3 linked regions of the Homo sapiens genome follow. The protein of the gene in region 1 interacts with the protein of each later gene in a pairwise test. Each region holds a gene or a part of one and is shown in the gene's direction. Other genes may lie near its edges.

Region 1 (8,227 bases):
GCTCCTCCCCTATAAAAACTTTCAGGGAGGCCTGAGGAGAGGTTGGGTGGTGGGCAGGAAAGGTGAAATGCAGGAATGAAGGGAGCTAACAGCATTCTCCATGTTCATGGGAAGTGTTAGTTTCACTGGGTGGGGGATGTTGGCAAATGACAGGGCAGTATGGAAACTATTTATTTTTCTTTATGGGGTTTGATGAACTGTTTAATTAATGCTTGTTCTTGGGAAGGAGGTACGTGTGTGATAAGGACACGTGTGGACAATCAGGAGAAGAATGGGAATTTGGGAGCCCTAGAAGGAGCGTGATTCAGTGATTCAGTGTCCACCGTCATCCTGGACTGTTCCAAGGGACTGCAGTGCCAAATGTCACAGTGGACTGTCCTGCAGAGGTCCTTGGGATGGTGTGAGTCTGGACTGGAGACCATATACTCTGGGAAGTGTAGTGCTGAGAGAAAGGGGATGGATGGAAGATCACAAAAGCTTCTGTGGGTTGGGAGTGGAGTTTCCAGAGTCAGGAAGATTTCATGAGGCAGGAGTCAGAGGCTGGTGGTGCTCTGGCCAAGGAGTAGGGTTATAAACGGAGAGCAGCCAAGATGGAATCCCTCTGAGGGTGCAACTCTTTGGGGGCTTGTTTTCCCCACGGAGCATGGGATGGTTCTATATGGTGAGTGTCGTTAAATTCCCTCTATCATGGGCTGTCTCTCTCTTAGGTGTCTCCCAGCCTCTCGGCCGAGTCTCACACAGCCAGCCCACCTGCAAGGTGCAGTGTAGGAGGAAGCAAGGCCAACAGTTAGAAGGAGATGAGCCCTGGCCCCTTTCATCTGGCCTCTGTCTAGGTGACCAAAGCTCACTTGGTCCTGGATATAGTTAGCAGCATGAGGAGTGATGTTCCTAGGACCAGTGGACAGCATGGACGCTGCCTTCTAGAAGGTCTTAACTCCCCATTAAATCCCCAGCACTCAGACAGTAATCCATACATAGCAGTGATTCAGTAAATGCTTGAATGATACTTGATGTGGTATCTTCACTAGAGATATATGAATATTTAGCAAGGGCAGGGAAATATGCTCAAAATCACTAATCACTACAGAAATGTAAATAGGAACCATAACAAGACACCATTCCACACCCGTAGAAAGATGAACGTTAAAAAAGACTGACAGGGGCCGGGTGCGGTGGCTCACGCCTGTAATCCCAGCACTTTGGGAGGCTGAGGTGGGTAGATCTTGAGGTCAGGAGATTGAGACCATCCTGGCCGACATGGTGAAACCCTGTCTCTACTAAAAAATACAAAAAATATCTGGGCGTGGTGGCAGGCACCTGTAGTCCCAGCTACTCAGGAGGCTGAGGCAGGAGAATGGCATGAACACGGGAGGCGGAGCTTGCAGTGAGCCAAGACAGTGCCACTGCACTCCAGCCTGGGCGACAGAGCAAGACTCTGTCTGCGGGGTGGCGGGGGGGTGCAGGTGGGAAGACTGACAGGCTGGGCACAGTGGCTCACACCTGTAATCCCAGCACTTTGGGAGGCCAAGGCGGGCAGATCACCTGAGGTCAGGAGTTCGAGACCAGTCTGGCCAACATGGTGAAACCCCATCTCTACTGACAATACAAAAATTAGCTGGGTATGGTGGCGGGTGCCTGTAATCCCAGTTACTCAGGAGACTGAAGCAGGAGAATCACTTGAACCCAGGAAACAGAGGTTGCAGTAAGCTGAGAGCATGCCATTGCACTCCAGCCTGGGCAACAGAGCAACACTCCATCTCAAAAAAAAAAAAAAAAAAAAAAAACCCAAAAACAAAAAGAAGAAGAAAAACAAAAAGACTGACAATACCAGATGTTGGCAGGGATATGGAGTAACTTGGGATTCAATATATTGCTGGTGGGAATGAATGATGATGCAGCCACTTTAAAAACAGCATGGTAGTATTTGTAGAGTTAAACATATTCTTACCATACAACCCAACAATTCCAATACAAGAGAAATGAAAACTTTCACAAAGACTTGTAAGTGAATGGTTATAGCAGCATTTTTTTTTTTTTTGAGACAGAGTCTCACTCTGTCACCCAAGCTGGAGTTCAGTAACACGATCTCAGCTCACTGCAACCTCCGCCTCCCAGATTCAAACATTTCTTGTGCCTCAGCCTCCTGAGTAGCTGGAATTACAGATGCACCCCACCACGACTGGCTAATTTTTGTATTTTTAGTAGAGACAGGGTTTCACCACATTGGCCAGGCTGGTGCTGAATCCCTGACCTCAAGTGATCTGCCCACCTTAGCCTCCTGAAGTGCTGGGATTACAGGTGTGAGCCACCATGCCTGGCCAGCAGCATTATTCATAAAAAATAAAAAACTGAAAGCAACCCAAATGTCCATCAACTGATGAATAAACAAATTACACTATGAAATACCATTCAGCCACAAAAAGGAATGGCATATTAATATACGTGTAACAATATGAATGAATCTCAAAAATATAAGAGAAATAATGAAATACAAAAGACTGTGTACTGCATGATTCCATTTATATGAAACTCTAGAAGAGGCAAAATTATAATGACAGAAACCAGATTAGTGGCTGCCTGGGGCTGGGGTGGGGAAGGAGATGGGCTGCAAATAAGCAGCAAGAAATGTTTTAGGGTGCAGGGACTGTTCTGTATTCTGATTGTGGTGGTGGTAACATAATTGTATATAATTACCAAAATGTATCAACCTGCACACTTAAAATGTGTGAATTTTATTGTATGTAAATAATAAAATATAAATTTTAAGTAGAAGAGACCCCCACATCTAGATATACCATGTGCAAACTTCTGGCAAACCAATAATAAAAATAAAATCTTGAAGGCAGCCAGAAACAATAGACAGAAGAACAAAGAATTACGGAAGACTTTTATTCAGAAACTACGCAAGCCAGAAGTCAATGGAGTAACATCCTTAAAGTACTGAAAAACAAAAACAGTCAGTCTAGAATGCTACACTTTTCTTTTTGTTTGTTTTTGTTTTTTAAAGACAGAGTCTTGCTCTGTTGCCCAGGCAGGAGTGCAGTGGTGCCATCTTGGCTCACTGCAAGCTCCAACCCCCGGGTTCAAGCGATTCTTGTGCCTCAGCCTTCCAAGTAGCTGGGGTTACAGGCACACACCACTACGCCCAGCTAATTTTTATATTTTTAGTAGAGACAGGCTTTCACCATTTTGGCCAGGCTGGTCTCAAACTCCTGACCTTAAGTGATCTGCCTGCCTCAGGCTCCCAAAGTGCTGGGATTACAGGCGTGAGCCACTGTACCCCTAGAATTCTTTTTTTTTTTTTTTGAGACGGAGTCTCACTCTGTCACCCAGGCTGGATTGCAGTGGCATGACCTCGGCTCACTGCAAGCTCTGTCTCCTGGGTTCAGGTGATTCTCTTGCCTCAGCCTTCCTGGTAGCTGGGATTACAGGCGCCCGCCTCTGCACCCAGCTAATATTTTGTATTTTAAGTAGAGACGGGGTTTCACCATGTTGGTCAGGCTGGTCTCGAACTCCTGACCTCCCAACTCTAGAATTCTATACTTCTATGCTTAATAAATATTTGTGGCTGAATTTACTGGAGGTGGTTATAGGGGGACATGGAAGGAAAACTATAAAAATGCAATTTAGTATTTGTTGATAAACCATACAGCCTGACTGGCATTGAAATTGGTTGTCTGTATAACTTTTCCATTACCAACTGAACTGTGCTAGAAGAAATATTAAAGGAAGTTCTTCAGACAGGAGGGGTATGACACCAGATGGCGATTTAGATCTCCACAAAAAATGAGGAGGCCTGAAAATGGTAAAAATGAAGGTCAATTTAAAAGTTATAATGGGGGCGGTCGCGCACACCTGTAATACCAGCACTTTGGGAGGCCGATGCGGACGGATTGCCTGAAGTCAGGAGTTCCAGACCTGCCTGGCCAACATGGTGAAACCCCGTCTCTACTAATAATGCAAAAGCGAGGCTGGTGTGGTGTCGGGAGCCTGAAGTCGCAGCTACTCATGAGGCTGAGGCAGGAGAATCACTTGAACCTGGGAGGTGGAGGTTGCAGTGAGCCAAGATCGTGCCACTGCACTCCAGCCTGGGCGACAGAGTCAGACTTCGTCTCAAAAAAAAAAAAAGGTTATAATGGTGTTCTCATTAGAAGAACTACAGACCCCAGAGCTCTCAAATCGCCGGAAGGATTTCTGCGGTAGGCCTGTGCATGATGGACAGAGGACAGGTGGTAAAGAATCACGGACACCTAGTAGGACAACTAGGCATGGCTTTGTCCCGGTTTCAGAGCACCGACACAGCATTTAGTCACCATTTACCTTCTTGGGAGGTGGGTTAGGCAGCGGGCACACTAGTCCTGCTTTGTGGGAGCAGAAGTGAAGTCTCAGAGAAAACAGGTGACTTGCCCAAGAAGCCTTATTAATTACCAGCCAGGACAGCGTATTTTCTATTCCGTGTGTTTTGGGATAACTTAGTGCCGTCCCCTCCGATGAACCAGTGCCTTCGAAAGCCCTTGAGATTTGGGAAACAGGCGGCACAGATCTTGGAGGTTACCTTGTTCTTAATCAGTCCTCAGGCAGTCGCCTCTAACGCGAGCGAACACCGGCTTCCCGAGGCCGTCGCTCGGCAGAGGAGGGGCCAGGCGCCCGATCCCAGATCCCCTTTCCCCGCCCCGCCGCGCCCCGCCTGCTCTGGCACAGCCGCACTCCCGCAAATCCCTCCCGCGGAACCCCCACTCCTGCCTGCGCGGGCGCTGGAAGGCGGGCAGGGGGCGGGGCGCCGCGGCGCGTCCGTTGCTAAGGCCGCGCAGCCCTAGTGACCGAACGCCCTGCGGCGGCCGCGCAGGCGCTGTGGTGGGCTCCGGTGCACTGTGGGATGGAAACCGGAGCGGCGCGTCCTGGCAGGACCGGGCGGCGGCGGCGGCGGGGCCGGCGGCGGCCAGGGACCCGGGCTTAGGCTCGGCCAGGCCGGCTGAGGGGCGCGGGCGGCCAGCGGGCGGCGGACGCCGTCATGAACGCGGCGGTGGTGAGGCGGACGCAGGAGGCGCTGGGGAAAGTGATTCGGAGGCCGCCGCTGACCGAGAAGCTGCTGAGCAAGCCCCCGTTCCGCTACCTGCACGACATCATCACGGAGGTGGGCGCCGGGGACCGGGCCCGGCCAGGTGCGGGTCGGGATTCCGGTGGGCGCCGAGGTCAGGGCCCGGGCCGGGTGGCGCCGGGTGCGAGCCGGGCTCGGGCTCAGGTGCGGGTCGGGGGCCGGGGCTGGGCCGGAGTCGGGGCCCGGGCCGGGTGTGAACCGGGTGTGGGCCGGGCTCGGGGTGCAGGTCGGGGACCTGTTCAGGGCCGGGTGTGGGCCGGGCACAGGGTGCGGGTCGGGGGCCGGGGTCAGTTCCGGGGTCGGGGCGAGAGTTCTGTGCGGCCCCTGCCTGGGAGCCCGGCCTGTAGGCCCAATTCCGCGGCGCCCTCCGTGAGGAGGTCCTGCCCCTCCCCCGGCTCCGGGCCGCCGCTTACAAGGAGGCTCCGGGCCCTCAGGAGCATTCTTACTTCTTCCCTGCCTGCCCTTGTATTTCCTTAGAGTGCATCTTCCATTATTGCTGGCAGAGCTGCTTCTGTGACTCCTGCCTCGTCTAACCTTGCAGAACCCCTCTCGCTTGCCCTGAAGTATGTAGCACGTGGAAGGCACTCCCTAAATCCTGGGAGAATGGAAATAATATTTTTTATACAACCCTTCTGCCCCAAAGTTTCCCTCCATACCACATTTTGGGTGCTTAATAAATGCCTGCGGGTGGATTTAGTGGAGGCGGCTGTAGGGGGACTTGGCAGGAAAGACTGTAACAGAGCTGCACAGCCTGCCCTACGTTGAGATTGGTGGTCTCTGTAGCTTTTTCCACTTGCGGATGGTGTGCTCCTCCGTGACGGAGACCCTGGCTTGCTTATTAGCATGGCTCTGGTGATCTGCACTGGGTAAGGTACATAGAAATTGCACAACAAACATCCCCTGTTGAGTGGGACCTGTCAAGGCTCGTGGTAACTCCCTGGTAACTCTCAGGAGCGTCACTGCAGCGGGCGCAGCACCCATTTCCATGGTGGACCCAAGGGCACGTGGGAACTCAGAGGTGTGTTTTGGGATTTAGGATTCAGGTTGGACTTGCAGACTTCCAGGGCCTCATGACCTCACCTGGTGATGGTCCTCAAGCTCTGTTTCTCACTCTTTTCAACAGGTTGGGTGCCTTATTCTTGCACAGACTTTGCTTTACTGGTTCTGCCCTCCTACCTTAGCTTATAACGTGTGGTCTCCTGGAGCGTGTGCCTCTGTGTTAAAACAGTGCCTAAAAATGCTCTCGAATCCACCCACATCCCAGGGCCTCGCCAGCCCTGGTCATGTCCTCCCAGCTGGTGCAGCACTTACAGCCTGTCCTGGACAGTGTGTGGGGAGAGGACCTGCTGTGTGGATAGCCCGGTGGGAGGGGGACAATGTGCCGCATCACCACCGTCCCGTGAAGTAGGCGGGTACCCGTCCTCTGACCCAGAGGGAACAAGAGCCAGTGTGAGCCCAGCCCACTCTAGCTGTGGCTGCCAAAACCTTTATTCTCCCAGGCCTGTCTGTCCCACTGAAATGCAGAGCCCCAGGAGGGAGGTGCAGGGAGTGTGCCTTATCCTTGTGGGGCAGTGATGGCGCTCAGCTCACGGTGGCTGTCCAGTCACTACCGCATAGTTGGTCAGAGGAATCCTAATGGGAGAGGAGGAGGAACATGGGCTGGGTGCTGTGGCTCACGCCTGTAATCCCAGCACTCTGGGAGGCCAAGGCGGGCAGATCACTTGAGCCCAGATGTTCAAGACCAGCCTGGCCAACATGGTTAAAACTCCATCTCTACTGAAAATACAAAAATTAGCTGAGTGTGGTGGTGCACCTGTAATCCCAGCTACTCAGGAGGCTGAGTAGGGAAGATTGCTTGAGCCGGGAAGGTTGAGGATGCAGTGAGCTGTGATTGTAACACTGCACTCTAGCCTGGGTGACAGAGTAAGACCCTGTCTCAAAAAAAAAAAAAAAAAAAAAAAAAAAGAATTGCCTTCTTGGCCAGGTAGATAGGGTGTGTGGAACGAGTTGCATGTTCCCAATTAGGAACGACTGGTCTGCTCTTCTCCCATAGACTTCCTCATCTAATGCCAAAGTTGATTTCTCTCCCTGTGTAAAGATAAATAAATTATGACCTACTTGATAAAGTTGTTAGAATGACTGACATATTGGAAAGGATTTTCAGATAATAGGTGGAGAGCCTCTTATGAAAATGCTTTACTGTACTGAATATTATACACACATTGCTATATTAGTATTTTAGCTATAGCTACACTAACCACCCCGTTTCATTAAGCTAAGTGTGGATACTGTGACGTTAATGTCTCTTGTCACTTACAGTTATTGTTCACAATTTTTTTTTTTTTTTTAGAGGGATTCTTGCTCTGTCGCCCAGGCTGGAGTGCAGTGACACAGTCTCCACTCACTGCAACTTACGCCTCCCAGGTTCAAGCAATTCTCCTGTTTCAGCCTTCTGAGTAGCTGGGACTGCAGGCACATGCCACCATGTCCAGCTAATTTTTCTATTTTTAGTAGAGATGGGGTTTCGCCATGTTGTCCGGCCTGATCTCGAACTCCTGACCTCAGGTGATCCGCCTGCCTCGGCCTCCCAAAGTGCCGAGATTACAGGTGTGAGCTACTGTACCCAGCCTATTGCTCACAATTTTAACTGCCAGCATCCTGGGAAAACCTCAACAGGGACAAAATGAAAATGTTCCAGGAATGTTAAATGCAGGATGCTCTTAATATTCTACCTGTCATCTCAAGAAAAACAGTAGCATAGCTCTTACATAGTGTGGTGTGGAATGAAAACTCCTAGATTCATTAATACCTAACTTGATGCAAATTAAGGAGTTGTGGCTTGATTCCAGAGGAGGCTCTCATTAGGGTGGGACTGTCTTGTTTTTAAAACATGTCTTCCCGTAATAAATATGCTTTATTAGCTGACCTAGGATATGTGGCTATGAGCATACCTGTCCTTACCACATACCATGCAGCCTGCTGGTAAGGGTCCCAGCTATTCAAAATGCTTGTTGCTACAAATTGTATTGATTTTACAGTAACCTACCACATTTCAAAAAACTGCAGTCTGAGACAACCCAGGACCCTGGCTGGGTGTGGTGGTTGAGAGGAACAGGAAAAATAATTGCC
Region 2 (8,142 bases), on another chromosome or scaffold:
GGTTTAAAATAATCCTTTTGGATTATATGTATATTCACTATGTTGGCCAGGCTGGTCTCCAACTCCGGACCTCTGGTGATCCGCCAGCCCCGGCCTCCCAAAATGCTGGGATTACAGGTGTGAGCCACTGCGCCTGGCCATTCGTGGTCTACTTTTGATAATTATTTTGTAACCTTTCTTTCTGCCTGCCATATATTTTTCTCCTTGCTTGTGAATTGTTGTGATCTTAGAAACAAAAAATGTGGCCTGGTATGGTGGCCTTACGCCTGTAATCCCAGCACTTTGAATCGCTTGAACTCAGTAGTTCAAGACCAGCCTGGCCAAGATGGCAAAATCCCATTTCTGGCCTGGCACCGTGGCTCATGCCTGTAATCCCAGCACTTTGGGAGGCCAAGGCGGGCGGATCACCTGAGGTCTACTAAAAATACAAAAATTAGTGGGGCGTGGTGGCGCACACCTGTAATCCTGGCTACTCCAGAGGCTGAGGCAGGAGAATTGCTTGACCCTGGGAGGCAGAGGTTGCAATGAACTGAGATCGTGCCACTGCACTCCAGCCTGGGAGACAGAGCGAGACTCCGTCTCAAAAAAAAAAAAAAAAATATGTTTTAACAACAAATACCTATTTTGGATTTTTAAACTCCTTAAAGAACTAAGTCAATAAAAGAAACATCAAGAAGTAATACAGACATTGTAATTTCTTGGGATATATGTAGTACATGAATACAAATATTTTAAAACATTTTTAGCCTTTTCAAGTACTTCTAAAACTTAAAAATTATAGAAGTATAGATACAAAAGGATGAATACATGACTCCACTTAATTGAGGTACCTAGAGTAGTCAAATTCTTAGAGACAAAATAGAATGGTTGTTGCCAAAGGCTGGAGAGAGGAGAGAATGGGGAGTTACTGTGTAGTGGGTACAGAGTTTTAGTTTGGAAAGATGAAAACGTACTGGTGATGGATGGTGGTGATTCCACAACAGTGTGAATGTAGTTCATGCCACTGAATTGTACAGCTACAAATGTTTAAAATGGTAAATTTTATGTTATGTATATTTTTAAAAAATCAACATATACGCCCCTCCTTATGCCTGCAGAATCATCCCTTATTTTTTTCCCTCAGCTCAGAGATGGCAGCTGACCTCACTCTTTTAGAGTGAGACCCCAAAATAATAGTTTATGTGATATAAATTTAAAAAATAAAAACAAAAAAACCAGCAAACAGTTCCACAGATAACAGGGAAAAGAGTCCTTTCTGAAGGGACATAGCCTTATTGTAAATCCAAGTTTACTAAATAGTTTCAGTCTTGAAATTGGGGAAAGCATGAGTCCCAGAGAAAACATTTAGATCAGAAGGTAGTTTATTAAGAACATGATGAAAGGCTTTAATAAGTTTGGTACCTAAAATATAAAGGTTTATTTGAAGAATTAACCCCAAGTTACTTTGACTGCTCTTTTAGAACTGGGATGTCAAATTGATTTGGCAGTGACTTACAACAGTGCTGTGATGAGGATTCAATGGCTGTGTCTCTGCTGTGACTAATCCATAGGTGTTGTAGGGAGAGTGAAATGAACCAGATGTTAGTTATGAACAGTGAATGCCTAGGTCCTCTGCTGGATGTTGCATTTGCTTTGAAGGGTCTATGTAGTCCCTACACAATGGAGTTGAGAGACAAGTACTTTCAGTGTAATAGTGATATATACAGGGTGTTGTAGTTGTGCAAAATAAGGCATTTCTGGAGAAGATCAGGGTGACATCTGAGTAGAGCCTTGATGGATAATGAAAAGTCATGGTATAGGGACAAGGGATTCAAGGCTTATTCCTAAGGATGACTGGATTAGTTTTCTAATATTGCATAACAAGTTACCACAACCTTAGTGCCTAATAACCCAGTTATTATTTTATAGTTCTGTAGGTCAGAAGTCTGGCATGGCATGACTGGGTTCTCTGCTCAGGGTCTTGCAAGGCTAAAATCAATATGTTGTCCAAGCTGCTTTCTCATCTGGAGCTCAGGATCTTTTTGTATGCCCATGTGGTTGTGGTAGAATTCAGTCCTTTCTGGTTATAGGACTGGGGCCTTCATTTCTTGCTGACCACTTTCGGCTTAGAGGCTACCAGCAGCTCCTTGCCACGTGCCCCTGTAGGCATTTTGCTTTCTTTCAGGACAGCAGAAGTACGTCCCTCTGCCCTCTAGACCCATATTTGAAGGGCTTATGTAATTAGTTTAGACCCATCCAGGTAATCTTTTGATGAACTCATGGTCAACTGATTAGTAACCTAGTAACCTTAAATATGCCTTTAAAATCCCTTTGCCCTGTAATATAACAATTATGAGAGTGATAGCTCATTATATTCACAGGGCAGGGGTCATTTGGGGTCATCTTACAGTTTTGCTTATCACAATGACTAAAATGGTTTTTCTTAAGTTTTTGTAGAGTCAGGGTCTTACTGTGTTACTCAGGCAGTCTTGAACTCCTGGCCTCAAGTGATCGTCTTGCCTTGGCCTCTCAAAGTGTTGGGATTACAGGCATGAGCCACTGTGCACAGCTAAAATGGTTTTTCTTACACTGAAATTGAGTATAACTGTGGTCAGTTAATAATTAGGCAGTGGGCAATAAAATATTAATTGTGGGTCTGGATGTAGCTGTCAGGTTTTTTGGTTAACAGCTTAGAAAGCTGACTCAGATTTCTTATGGCTATTGCAATTAATCAGCTCAAGTTTGGTTTGAAGGAACCTAAATCCCTTTATATCTTGAAGTGAGGATAGCCCATTAAGGAACCAGGCACCTGGGACAAATGCTGAAGTACAGTTAGTTCTTTATGCACTGTTATATACTTTATACTCACATCCATTTTCTCATATAATTCTTACTCTTGTAACTCCAGAGGAAGATCCAGAGGAAGATCAACAAGTCATCAGGCCACGTTTTGCCAGATAGTACTACTTTTCTAGGGAGAGTATGTTTTAGAATCTGTTAAACTTTGTAAACCCCGTTATTTGATTTTTTTGTCAGTTTCTCCAGAGCTGATGAGGCTCTCAGTTACTGATTAGACCATATGAGGCCAAGGTGTAAGACGTAATGCCAATTTTTCAGATTTGCAGTGAGGTATACTTTTTAAGCAGTTGGAAGGTCACTGTCTAAGGTAGCCCTTTCCTGGCATCTGGATATTTGGAAAGCTGAATTAATAACCCAGAGATTTCTTAGACATGATAGAATCACAACAGAGAGAGTTGATTAGTCAAGAGGTATTTCCTGTGGTCTAGTAGTACTTTTCTAACTTTTTACCACCCAGTGACCATTTTATTAAAGGAGTTCTTAGATATAATCATTTATAAATACATAGATACAAAAGGCTGCCCCCATAGTGGCAGCCTTTGAGGCACCTACAGCCTTTGAAGCTGGCACTGGCATGGTTTGCAAATTATGGCTCTAGGTGTGGGAAGGGTTTATTGAATTTATCTCAACTTTAATGAAAGCTATTTCTGATGTTCTTTGAACATTTGTAATTTGAACGTGGTGTTCAAGGTAGGCTCAAACTTATTCCAAGACTGAGACTAATACTACACAGTGACTGTGCTTTCCCTTGCCATTTTCTAAGTACAATGTTGACTTTTAGTCACATATTTTCTAGACATTTAAACCATTGCTAAGGCTTCAACTTTATTTCACATTGATTGATTTTCTTGTTTATATGCTTTTTTTTTTGAGACGGAGTCTTGCTCTGTCACCCAGGCTGGAGTGTAGTGGTGCAATCTTGGCTCACTGCAACCTCTGCAGTTGAAGCAATTCTCCTGCCTCAGCCTCCTGAGTACCTGGGATTACAGGCGCACAACACTACTCTTGTTCATGTTTTTAAGTCCTTATTCTTCCTGTTTTGTCTTTGGTGGGAGAGGATATGTCATCCCTTAAGGTGACTTCTGCACATAGCTAATTTCATCTGTTGTATTGATTTTTCTGGTTCATCTTTTAGAAGGTGTTGGAGTTCTTGGTTGTAAGCAACAAAAAGTCAATCTAGGTAAGCAGAAAAATAATTTATTGAAGACTCTTTACCCTACAGAATTTCCCTGAGGTCCCAAAAGTCTGAGCTGATTGCTACGTCCAGTTATACTGGGGAGACTACTCTGTGTTGCAGCTGCTTCAGCTTGGCACCAGCATTGCATCTGTCACTTCACAGCTTATATTTGTGTGGATGCATGAAGTTCTGTCTCCATTGTCATCAGATGATGAACTTTATTTGTATGTCTGTTTTTTCACATCACTCACTTATGACTCGAAGTCTCATGTGTTTCATTGATGGAGCTCAGGTTACCCTGTCTCAGATAAAAAGAAGATTGGGTTAGTAAGTTTTCTGAGTTCTAACTTACGGACTTATAAGAGCTGTTTATAGAAAAAAGGTTATTAAACTTTTGTCATATTTGTAGATGCTTTTCCTCACCTCCCAATTAAACTGCTGCTTTGATTTGTTTTTCACATAAAAATCTCTTTCCCATTCAGAGATTGTAGAAATAGACTCTTGAATTTTTTGTATTTCAATAAAAAAAATTAAATCTTTAATATAGCTTAAGTATGAAGGATCTGATTTGTGTGTCTTGCCCCATATGGATGGCCAGTTGTCCCAACATTTATTGAATGTCTATCCTGATGCAAAATGTTACTTTTATCATAAGCTAAATATGTATATGTCTGTCTGGATGTATATATGTGTATATAGAGTATGTGTATATTTGTATACTATTCCTCACGACCTCTCAGTTCCACCCTAACCACAGCAGTTTGTGCACGGATACCACAGACCAGAGTTCCATTTGTTTATTCATTCATTCATTTATTTGACAAATATTTATTAACTGCCTTTTGTAAAGTGCAGACTACAAAAAGAGGTAAGATATCATGACTCATTCATTTCTCAAAATAGATCTGAGTTCAGATCTATTTTGCTGTGGGTGTAGGGGGATTTCAAAATTTTGGTTTTATACTTTTAGGGTTGTTTTTAGCTCACCTTAGAGTAGACCCCAGACCTCTAGTTTAAATTTTGAGCCCTTTCTCCTGAGTTTTTTTGCGCTGAGGGTTATAGGAGTCAGGCTGTCAATTACAGAGCTAAATGGAATAGCATCTCAGTATTTAGCAGTGGTATTCAAGGTAGGCTCAAAGCAAGGCCATTAATTAGGTGGGCAAGTGCTGTTTATCTGTGCATTTCATACTATTGAATGTTAGAGCTAGAAGGTAGAAGGGATCTTAAAGATTGAATTGCCAGCCTTTTTTTTTTAAATGAACTTCTAATTTTGGAATAATTTTGGTTTATAGAAAAGTTCTAAAGATAGTGCAGAGAGTTTTTATATACCCCTCACCTGGCTTCAGTTTTCTCTAATATTATCATCTTACACTAGTATCGCAACTTTATTTTATATATGGAGACACATAGTCCTCAAAAAGTTCATGTAGCTAAGATCATAGTTCTAGTTGGTGGCAGAGTTAGGCCAGGGACCTAGTAGGTAGCCTGGGTTTTCTAGTTGATTATATTTGTTATCCTTTTCTGCTTTTCGTGTTTTTGCTCTTTTCCTTTCTTTCACTGAATTCTTTGGGCATGGACTGAGAGAAGGACTACCTAGTTCATAGTTCACTAGTCAATATAGTCTTGCTAATTTGTGCAATAATTTTTAAATCTAGGCGTCCTCCAATTCTTCAACACCAACAAGAATGAGGAGCAGGACATCTTCATTTACAGAGCAACTTGATGAAGGTACACCCAATAGAGAGGTAAGTTTGGAATTCCTTTTCTAGTATACCTCTCAAAAGAAACTAATCTAAAATGTATGCTGTTGATAACAAAATGGGAAACTTTTGACAGGTCAGCTATTTAATTCCTAGGTAGAGTTTTTATTAGTAACACAATTGGTCTTTTTTTTTTTTTTTTCACAAATAGCAGTTATGATTTATGTCTGTCTGTCTGTCTGTATGTATGTATGTATGTTTTTGAGACAGGGTCTGGTTCTGTCACCCAGGCTAGAGTGTGGTGGCACGATCACTGCACATTGCAGCCTTGACCTTCTGGATTCAAGTGATCCTCTAACTTCAGCCTCCTGAGTAGCTGGGACTATAGGCGCACGCCACCTGCCTGGCTAACGTTTAAATTTTTCGTAGACGGGGTCCCACTATGTTGCTCAGGCTGGTCTTGAACTCCTGGGCTCAAGTGATTCTCCCAATTATGCTTTATAAAGTATGGTTGTTGAGAACCTTAATTTGAGAGGATAATATGTTCTGGATTTAATAGTTGAAGTTTTCAGAATAATTTGATAAATTTGTTCAACATAGCATCATTTTTTCAAGCTGGTGAGTGGAAACTGAGAAGTAACTTATTTAACTTATTCCATGTAACCAGCAGCTGGCATTAAAACTCATTATTTCCCACTTTTTTTCTGTGAAGTGTAACACACATACAAAAAGAAGGTAAAACATAAATGCACGGGTCAGCAAATTATCATGAAGTGAATCCTCCCAGGTCAAGCAAAGGAACACTGTTAGCACTGTCGTGCTCCCTTTCCCCCTGAAGGATTACCACCATCCTGAATTTTTGGTATTTGCTTGCTTCCTTTTTTTTTTTTTTTTTAATAGTTTTACCTCTTAAATATGCTTTCTAAATGTAAACATTGTAGTTAAACATTTGGGTTGTCTACAGGTTTTGGCTACTATGAATTATGTTGCCATCAACATTATTGTACTTTTTTTTGGTGTACATGTACCTGCATTTCTGTTGGTATGTACTTTGGAGTAGAATCACTGCTCCATTTTAACACATAAGAAGATAATGCTGATGGTTTTCCAGAGTGGTTGTAGAAATTTAAATTCTCACCAGGAGCTTATGAAAGTTGCTTTTGCCCTATATTTTTGAGAGTCTTTATTTTTCTACTCTGTGTAAATATGCTGGAAAACAGTCTTTTTCATTTCAGCTGTTCTGGTGGTGGTCTTTCATTTTGGTTTTAATTTACATTCTCTGATAACTAACGAGATTGAGCATTTACATCTGTTTATTGCCCATTTGATGTCTTTTGTGAGTGCTTAAGTCCCTTGCCCATTTTCTATTGGATTATCTTTTTTTAAAACTGATTTGTAGGAGTTTTTTAAAAAATATAGAATACTAAGGAGTTTTTTGTTGAATATATATCTTGCAGCTATCTTCCACTCAGTGGCTTGCCATTCATTTTAATGATGTCCTTTGATGAACAGAAGTTCTTAGTTTTAGGCCAAGTATGGTGGCTCATGCCTGTAATCCCAGCGCTTTGGAAGGCCAAGGCAGGAGGATTGCTTGAGTCCAGGAGTTTGAGACCAGCCTGGGCAACAGAGTGAGACCCTGTTTCTGCAAAAATAAAATAAAATAAAATTAGCTAGGTATGGTGGCATGCACCTGTGTGGTCCCAGCTACTCAGGAGGCTAAGGCAGGGGCATTACTTGAGCCTCGGAGGTCGAAGCTGCAGTGAACCATGATTGCACCAGCCTAGGTGACACAGTAAGACCCTGTCTTTCAAAAAAAAAAAAAAGCCTGGTTCCCATCCATTTCCCATCCCTGACAGTACCTTCTATCTTAGAAGTTTAACAAAATGAGAAACCGCATAGGGTACAGGGAAATGATGAAAAAATTAATTTAATGTCCTTTTAACCAAAAACTTAATTATATAATTGAAAAATCCTTTATTTATTATAAAATAAGTTGAAGTAAGGTTTAGATTGCACTCTGTGGTCAAAGTACCTGTTAAAGTTGTCAAAAAAGCTTAAAAAGCAAGGAGATGAAGTGATGACAATGCTTTGTCATTCTATCCGAAACCATCTCTTAGCTAGGATTGTTAATATTAAAATTTAGAAAGAAATAAATAAACTTTAGCTGACTTGGTCGATTGTAAAAGAGTGCTAAAACCAAATCTTTCAGAAATAATTATTTTGTAAAGGTATATTCAATTAAATTATTTTAAAGCATCCTAGATTTTTAAAAAGTATTTTAAAAAAGCAATGGTAGCAGTCAGCCGGGCATGGTGGCTCACGCCTGTAATCCCAGCACTTTGGGAGGCCGAGGTGGGCAGATCACTTGAGGCCAGGAGTTCGAGACCAGCCTGATCAATATGGTGAAACCCTAAAAAAATACAAAAA
Region 3 (8,142 bases), on another chromosome or scaffold:
TCATTATACCATTTCTAGAATATCATTGGGATAGTTAATTTTCTTAAATTGTACCCTGTAATTTTCCAAACCATTTCTTCTATTAAAAGTTGAATTTGTCAACCTTTACCATTGTTAACTTAGCCACATTTGCTTACTTTGTGATGCAGAGGAAAGTGAGGAGACTTTGAAAAACACTAAAGAAATCCAAAGAAAAGCAGAAGAAAAATATGAAGTATTGGAAAATAAAATGAAAAATGCAGAAGCTGAAAGAGAGCGAGAACTGAAAGATGCTCAGAAAAAACTGGATTGTGCCAAAACAAAGGCAGATGCATCTAGCAAGAAGATGAAAGAAAAACAACAGGTAATAACTTCTTTTTGAAATTGAACCAACCTTTTAAAGTCAACATAGAGCTGAAGGTGGTAGAGCATCATTGGTTGACCTTATTCATCAGAATTGATCTCAGAATCTAAAAGGGAGCAGTGTTCTTTGGAAACAAATTATGCTTCTTACAAGTCAAAGGAGTATCCAGGATGAGCATCTCAAATCCAAAATACAAATTAGAAACTTTTTGAGTGTTGATCTGAGGCTCAAAGGAAATGTTCATTGGAGCAGATTGGATTTGGGATACTCAGTTACTCTGTATAATGCAAATATTCCAAAATCCAAAAAAAAAATCTGAAGTCTGGAAGACTTCTGGTCCTACACACTTTGGATAAGGGATATTTAATCTGTATTTTTCTCTGAAAACCCTGCAATCGAGTGTTTCATAGTTGTGAGTAGGGGATGCTAATTTTAAGGAAAGGGCAAAGTTGACGGTTGGTAAATGCTTCCTTCAAGAGTGGATGGCCTTTCTTCAGGAGTGGATTATTTGATATTCTGGATGTCATATCAGAGATTCAGCAAGTTGACATTTTTATTTGATAAGCACCTAAATGAATGTGCACTGTGAGAGCATAATGGAAGACAAAGCATGTTATATTTACAAGGTGTCATTCAGTTGTAAACTGATGATACTTTGTTATATCTTTTAGCTAATGCCAAAGCTGGAATCTGAACCTAGGTTTTTGTCTCCAAAGGCTACGTTGTTAATCACTTTTATGCGATTTCACCTAAATATATTTCCCTCGCATTTTTTTTTAGCCCACTCTAAGATTCTTGTCATTAAATAGCTGTAAAAAGTATTTTCTAATGCAGGGGTCCCCAACCCCCCAGGCCACAGACCAGTAACAGAGGAGGTGTGTGACAGGCAAATGAGGATTACTGCCTGAGTTCCACCTTGTGTCAGATCAGCTGTGGCATTAGATTCTCAGAGGAGTGCAGACCCTTTTCTGAACTGTGCATGCAAGGGATCTAGGTTGCATATTCCTTATGAGAATCTAATGCGTGATGATCTGAGATGGGGTGGTTTTATCCTGAAACCATACTCTCTCCCTGTGCCCGCCATATGGAAAAATCATCTTCCACAAATCTGGTCCTCGGTGCCAAAAAGGTTGGGGACTGCTCTTCTAATGAACTGAAGGCTATAGTGGGAAAGAAGAATATTGAGAAACTTTTTACACATTGAACAATTTTGTTTTTAAAAAAGCTTTACTTCCAGTAATTCATCTGTTACGTAGAATGTTATATTATTTTCCCTATAGGAATAAAGGATAAAGAAAATAATTTATGCAGAGTTCTTTGAACCTATAAAAATTACACATACTTTTTTTTTTGATATAGGAAAATAAACTTCCTTTTCTGGGGAAGCAGCTTAACCTGTACTTTCGGTAGCTGAGTGGTAACAAAGCTGTGGGTCTTACTTGCATGAGATTATTATTTATTTAATTGTTCTGTACATATTTGTTTTTCAGTAGTTAATAACCTATATGAATACCTGAATACTGTATTTTTTATAGGAAGTTGAAGCTATCACTCTGGAACTGGAAGAGCTCAAGAGAGAGCATACATCTTACAAACAACAGCTTGAAGCTGTAAATGAAGCTATCAAATCCTATGAAAGTCAGATTGAAGTAATGGCAGCTGAGGTGGCTAAAAATAAGGTAGGATTTATTTATCAAATTCGAGAAATTGAAAATGCGAATCTTTTTATGAAACATTAGCTTAAGATGTTTGACTTTAGTGTTCTCAGTCTTTTCACTCGTCATCATGAGAGAATGAGGCACAAATAGCTTTTACTCATCCAGAATTGCCAGTTTTGGGATCACATAGGTCAGTCAGCTTCTAGCAGTCCCTCTTCTTCCTCACTTAGTTGATTCCATCTACATTACATCTAACAAAAAACGCTCTCATTTGCAGCATGAGCGTGCAGCATGAGCATTGTACCTCCCACCCCTTTTACCAGGGATGATCCAAGTTTTCTTCTGTGTATAAATTGATTAGTCCTTTTAATGGTGATATAAAATATAGAGGGTTAGGTGATCATCTCTCTGCCTGTAATCACATTGCCCTCTTGCCCAGGGATCTGTCAGATAATTGTTTAGTAAATTAAAATTATTTACATGTTACCTCACCACATATTTTCTTTAATTTTTTTGTTTTAGGAGTCAGTAAATAAAGCTCAAGAAGAGGTGACCAAGCAAAAAGAGGTGATAACAGCCCAAGACACTGTAATTAAAGCTAAATATGCAGAAGTGGCAAAACACAAGGAGCAAAACAATGATTCTCAGCTTAAAATTAAGGAATTAGACCACAACATCAGCAAACATAAACGGGAGGCTGAAGATGGTGCTGCAAAGGTATACGTTTGTGTGCATTTTTTATACTAAATCAAATTTTTGTTACTGAGCTCTTGAAAAAATTTAGAAAACTGCTTGATAGAGAACTCTATAAATATAAATGGCAAAATTACAGCCTGGCATAAATTTGAGCTTGCAGCTTTAACTGCTTTTCAACAATGCTAATTTTCAACAAATTGCACAAATGTTTTATTTTTAGATTTAACTTTAGATATTTTTTCCCATCTACAGGATGTATTTACCAAATGTTTAGTGGTCTCCCATGGAAATAACTTTTCACCTCCAAATGTTGATAGAACTAATTACTGATGTGCTAGTAATAATGATATATATTCTCTACCTTATTTCAAATTGAATTAAAAAACTCACAGAACTATATATACAGGTAATCTAAAAAAAGGACTGAATTGGCTTCCACATGTCTTTATGAGTGTTACTGCTGTCAGTATTTGCAACTTTATAAAAAATCTGATGTTTTGCCAAGCAGCTATGTTTTTGAGGTTATCCCAGTTTCTTTCTTTCATGTGTCACAGCACCTTTACTTCAGTGCTTTAAAGATAACACGTGCTTTTGCAGAAATTCATTGCTTGGTTAAGAAGCTGCATTCACATGGTATTAATAATTCATCTAGCATGTTTTCTTATGAGTGTGTAACAGTTTGGCACCTTTTTAATGTCCAGGATATTTTTTTTTAGCATCCTAAAAATACATGAACTTTAACTTCAGAAAGATCAAGAACATACAAAACAATCTCCCTCTCTTCTGAAAGAACTGTGGAACTTGATTTAAACAACATTTTTCATGGCTACATTATAATCTACCACTTTATTACTATTGATTTCCCATTAGCTTAGTGATAGTGGACTGACTGAAATACTACCAATGGCAATGTTACTGCTAATAGTTTTTTGGTAATTGAAAATGCTAGTACTGGCGATTGCTAGGAGATTTTATTTACAAGAGTAAAAGGAGGGACTTGCAAGTGGGTCTGCTAAGAAGTCAATCAAAGATTTATACATACCTACCAGTATCAGATACTGTGCCAGGCACTGACAATGTAAGGATGAGCAACACATACAGGATGCTTTCAAAGAGTTTACAGGTCAAAAGGAAGATACACTAGAAATGATAATTGTACTTTGGGGCCTACAGGTGAGACCATATCCATGGAATTAATACAAGTCAATAAATTAACAAGGATTGGATTCTGCCAGTGAGAATGAATCATAATTCTAGTAGAAGAAAGTCTTCTTTAGGCACTATAATTTGAACTGTATAATCAGTTGTATTACATGAAAAATTATTATACAGTGCCTTTTTCAATATACTGTGCCTTTTTCAAAAGGTGGGGAGCAGGATAGAGTCAATGTTTAGGGCAGTTTCTTAGAATATATTTCTGAGAGAAAAATTATTAGGTCTCAGTCAGCATTAGGCTTCCATGATTTTTACCAAATCTATGACTTAAGTATTAAAAGAGTTTTAGCTTCTCATAAGTTGTGTTTTGAAGCAATAGATTGAATTTGGTAAATTCTGAAGGAGTTCTACCTGACTTACATTTCATTCTAATGGAGGTGCTTTGCGTATACTTCGTAAAAATTTCTCTGTGAGTTGGCTCTTCTAATGCCAAAGTAATAGGAAGATCTTTTGCTATACAGTGTCTTGTTTCTGTAGTCTGTGTTCCAGGTAAAAATATTCATCTTTATTCTTGTCAGTAATGAAACTCATTTTTAAAAATGAGTCGCCTAGGCACGGTGGCTCACGCCTGTAATCCCAGCACTTTGGGAGGCCGAGGTTGGCAGATCACCTGAGGTCGGGAGTTCCAGATCAGCCTGACCAACATGGAGAAACCCCGTCTCTACTAAAAATACAAAATTAGCTGGGCGTGGTGGTACATACCTGTGATCCCAGTTACTCAGGAGGCTGAGGCAGCAGAATCACTTGAACCTGGGAGGTGTAAGTTGCGGTCAGCCAAGATCGCGCCATTGCACTCCAGCTTGGGCAACAAGAGTGAAACTCCATCTCAAAAAAAAAAAAAAAATTAGTCATTGAAGGTTTTTTCCTCTTCAGTATTTGATTCAAAAGTATTAAATAGTTAAGAAACTGGCTTATACATATTGGTTTGTAAACATTCATAGATCTCCCATCTATTTTTATATGTGGCTAGGTATCCAAAATGTTGAAAGATTATGACTGGATTAATGCAGAGAGACACCTCTTTGGCCAACCCAATAGTGCCTATGATTTCAAAACTAACAACCCTAAAGAAGCTGGTCAGAGACTTCAGAAGTTGCAAGAAATGAAGGAGAAACTAGGAAGAAATGTCAATATGAGAGCTATGAATGTATTGACAGAAGCTGAAGAGCGAGTAAGTCAATTTCTTATGAATATCTGGCCGCATTAGAACATGACTAGCATTGACAGCTCTGTATGACCTCTGATGCAATTATTAGAGTTAACCTTTTGCAGATGTCCTTGATACTTTTCTTTCTGCTTTCCTTTTTCTCTTTTCGTCATTTTTTTCTTATTACTCTTATGCATCATTAGTTGTTTTTACATTCTATTACACCTGGAATGACTTTTTCACTGGCTTTTGTTCTTTGTCAAACATAATTCCTCACATTTCTATCATTTCATTTCTTTCACTTGCATTGAAAAGCCTTGAATAGGATATACTTCTGTCATCCTCTTGACTCTACTGTATACTGAAACTATATAAGTAATGACTAAAGCCATTATACACATAAATACTGTTTCACTGATCTGTAAATTCTGCAGCCTCTTCTCAGTTTTAATGCTCTCAATTACTCAATAATGTTATTCTTCCCTAACCTGACAAAACTTTGAGTCTGGGAAGGGAGTTTACTGTCATCTAGTGATGAACTTGGGAGGACCTATCACTAGAAAAACCCAGTGGGGGAAGCATTCCCTACTCTTAAGATAGCCATAAGAAATGGCTATCTTAGTAATTTTATATTAATGCCCCTATTAATGCCCCATACCTTCCTGAATGCTGGAAAATTCTGTTTGAATTTGCAAATCAGAGTAAAATTCATGAGAAATCTGCGACACTGATAATAGCACAGTTACTTTGAAGAAATTTTACCATAATTTTTTTTAACTGTTTTTGGCATGAATATGCACAAAGAGTCTATATTATATTAGATACCAAACAGATGAATCATGCAGGTATTGTGATCTCTCTAGAAAATGCTCCTGCTGGTTTTCATTTCTACATTAAAGCTTTGCAATATGTGATATATTTGTAGAAGGAAAACTTTGGTCTGAATTTGATCTGCATAACATGAAACTTGTTCACTTTTACTCGTTTACTTCTATTAGATGAGACCTGAGTCTAATATTTTTTTCAAAAGAATTTATCAACTCCCATCTCTTTACCAGAGGAGAAGCCTATATTGTTGATCAGCAGATGGCCTTTTTTTTTCTTGTGTTTTGTATCTATCTACATAAGCAATTACATGGATTTTCATGAAAAAATAAGATAAAAATGTAGAGAGAAGGTTAGGGGAGCGTGGCTGTAAAGAAGAGGGACAGCAAGGAAAACAGCAGGACTGACTAGAATTGTTAAAGGTGAATGTGAAGCCTCCTTGAAATGTAGGGCTTTGAGGAGAAATGAATTAGGAAGAGTTTTAGGAAGTCCCATTGCTGTTCATGGTATGATTATCCCTCTACAGCCTTGCTTGAAGGAAGACTACTCTAAAGTGGTGATATTTGAGCTGAAATTTCAGGCAACCGTTATGTCAGAGAAAGAGCATTCCAGGAAGGGAGAATAGTGCAGGGGCCATAAGACAATAGTGAGTTTATTATGTTCAAAGGAGCTGTAAAAGACCATATGGCCAGAACCTGGGGAGGAGTTTAATGCCATAAAGTCAAGGGATAAATAAGGTCCAATTCCCTTTATCCTGATGCATACAGGGCTTAAAACCTGGTTGATTGGTGCAGCAAGCCATCATGGCACATGTATACCTATGTAACAAACCTGCACATTCTGCACATGTATCCCAAAACTTAAAATTAAAAAAAAGTAAGGTCCAATTTATGTGGTTCCTATATATCATGGTGAAGGATCAAAATTTTGTTCATGTCACTGCTAAGGCTGACCTTAAGAGGAGAGCTTTCAGGGCTCCTTTTACTTAAGTTTATATGTAACACTTTTTTTTTTTTTTTTTGCCTTGGCTGCTAAGGAGATAAGGGAATATTAGTGGAGTCAAAATATTTTAAGGACTTTGTCTTATAAATTCTTAGTTCTAGTAATTTAGTTATATACATATGGATGATTTTATTCCTAATTTTGTTAAGAGTGTGTATATGAGTGTGTATATACACACACATCATACAGTATATGTATAGTATATGAGTATATATAATTCTTAGTGCATTATATCTTTTTGGTAAATAGCAATGTATGTATTGTATATAAAAATAATGAAAACTGTTTATTTCTGACCAAATTCCAGAATATAGAAGAGATTTTATATTTTCCCAGTTAACCATGTTTTTTATCTCATAGTACAATGACTTGATGAAGAAGAAGAGAATTGTAGAAAATGACAAATCCAAAATTCTTACAACTATAGAAGACCTTGACCAGAAGAAAAACCAAGCCCTAAATATTGCATGGCAAAAGGTACTTTTTATGTTTGTTTTATATGAGGTTGCAAGGATGAAAAAATATCATCAGTGGAGTTATACTCTATAAGAAATTTGAAATAGCTGATCTATGTTTGAATGAGGCACATATTCACACCTTAATTAAAACCTCTGACTTTTAAATGCATTTTTTTCTTTTTGAACTTGACTACTACCAGATCCTGGCATTCTTGTACTTCTGTAAGAATTGGATAGTAAACAAGCCAAGTTTAGTATTCTCTTTTACAGGATGCTTATTCAACAAAATCCCAATTCCATTTTGTTTTATGACAACTTTGGCAGATCTTAGGCTTCTTTACTGTTACTTCTACTTCCCTGACTTCATGTATCTGTCTCCTATAGGATAATTCCTTAGCCTCTCATGTGGAAGTTTTTCCATTTTTACTATAGCGGAAGATTCTTACTTCAGAGATTCCAAACATAGAGTTACTGTGCTGTTTGGTAGTTTAGCAAACCTGTGCCTTCTGGGTTTTAATGGGGCACCTTGCCTCTTTTTCTCTTTGTAATTCTGTAGGAACTCTATCTTCAGTAATGCAGCACAATTATCCCTTTTAGTCACCTTGTTTTTTTCTTCTCTAAGACTTATTTTCAGTGCTCCATTCCCTGTAATATTTTTCTCTTAAAAATGGAAGCAAAAGGCTGACCCTATTAATTAGTGTGCAGCATGTCGATTTAACACTGGATCTGAGAGGTTTTTTTTTTTTTCTTTTTTCCCACCAGGATTCGTGGACTTAGTACAAATCAGAATCTATTGTC

The links. The genes of interacting proteins can lie anywhere in the genome.
Region 2: the proteins of TRAF3IP1 (region 1) and GOLGA4 interact in a two-hybrid assay, tested with the Homo sapiens proteins (2 studies listed by BioGRID and IntAct).
Region 3: the proteins of TRAF3IP1 (region 1) and SMC2 interact in a two-hybrid assay, tested with the Homo sapiens proteins (2 studies listed by BioGRID and IntAct).

Annotation. Positions count from the first base shown.
Region 1 is NC_000002.12:238,315,652-238,323,878, forward strand, and holds the start of TRAF3IP1 (TRAF3-interacting protein 1), read left to right. Parts: upstream 1-4,866; 5' UTR 4,867-5,011; coding exon 5,012-5,134; intron 5,135-8,227.
Region 2 is NC_000003.12:37,245,725-37,253,866, forward strand, and holds part of GOLGA4 (golgin subfamily A member 4), read left to right. Parts: intron 1-3,973; exon of another isoform or gene 3,974-4,018; intron 4,019-5,670; coding exon 5,671-5,760; intron 5,761-8,142. UniProt on the Homo sapiens protein: Involved in vesicular trafficking at the Golgi apparatus level. May play a role in delivery of transport vesicles containing GPI-linked proteins from the trans-Golgi network through its interaction with MACF1. Involved in endosome-to-Golgi trafficking.
Region 3 is NC_000009.12:104,124,763-104,132,904, forward strand, and holds part of SMC2 (structural maintenance of chromosomes protein 2), read left to right. Parts: intron 1-149; coding exon 150-343; intron 344-1,878; coding exon 1,879-2,022; intron 2,023-2,523; coding exon 2,524-2,718; intron 2,719-4,882; coding exon 4,883-5,083; intron 5,084-7,246; coding exon 7,247-7,363; intron 7,364-8,142. UniProt on the Homo sapiens protein: Central component of the condensin complex, a complex required for conversion of interphase chromatin into mitotic-like condense chromosomes.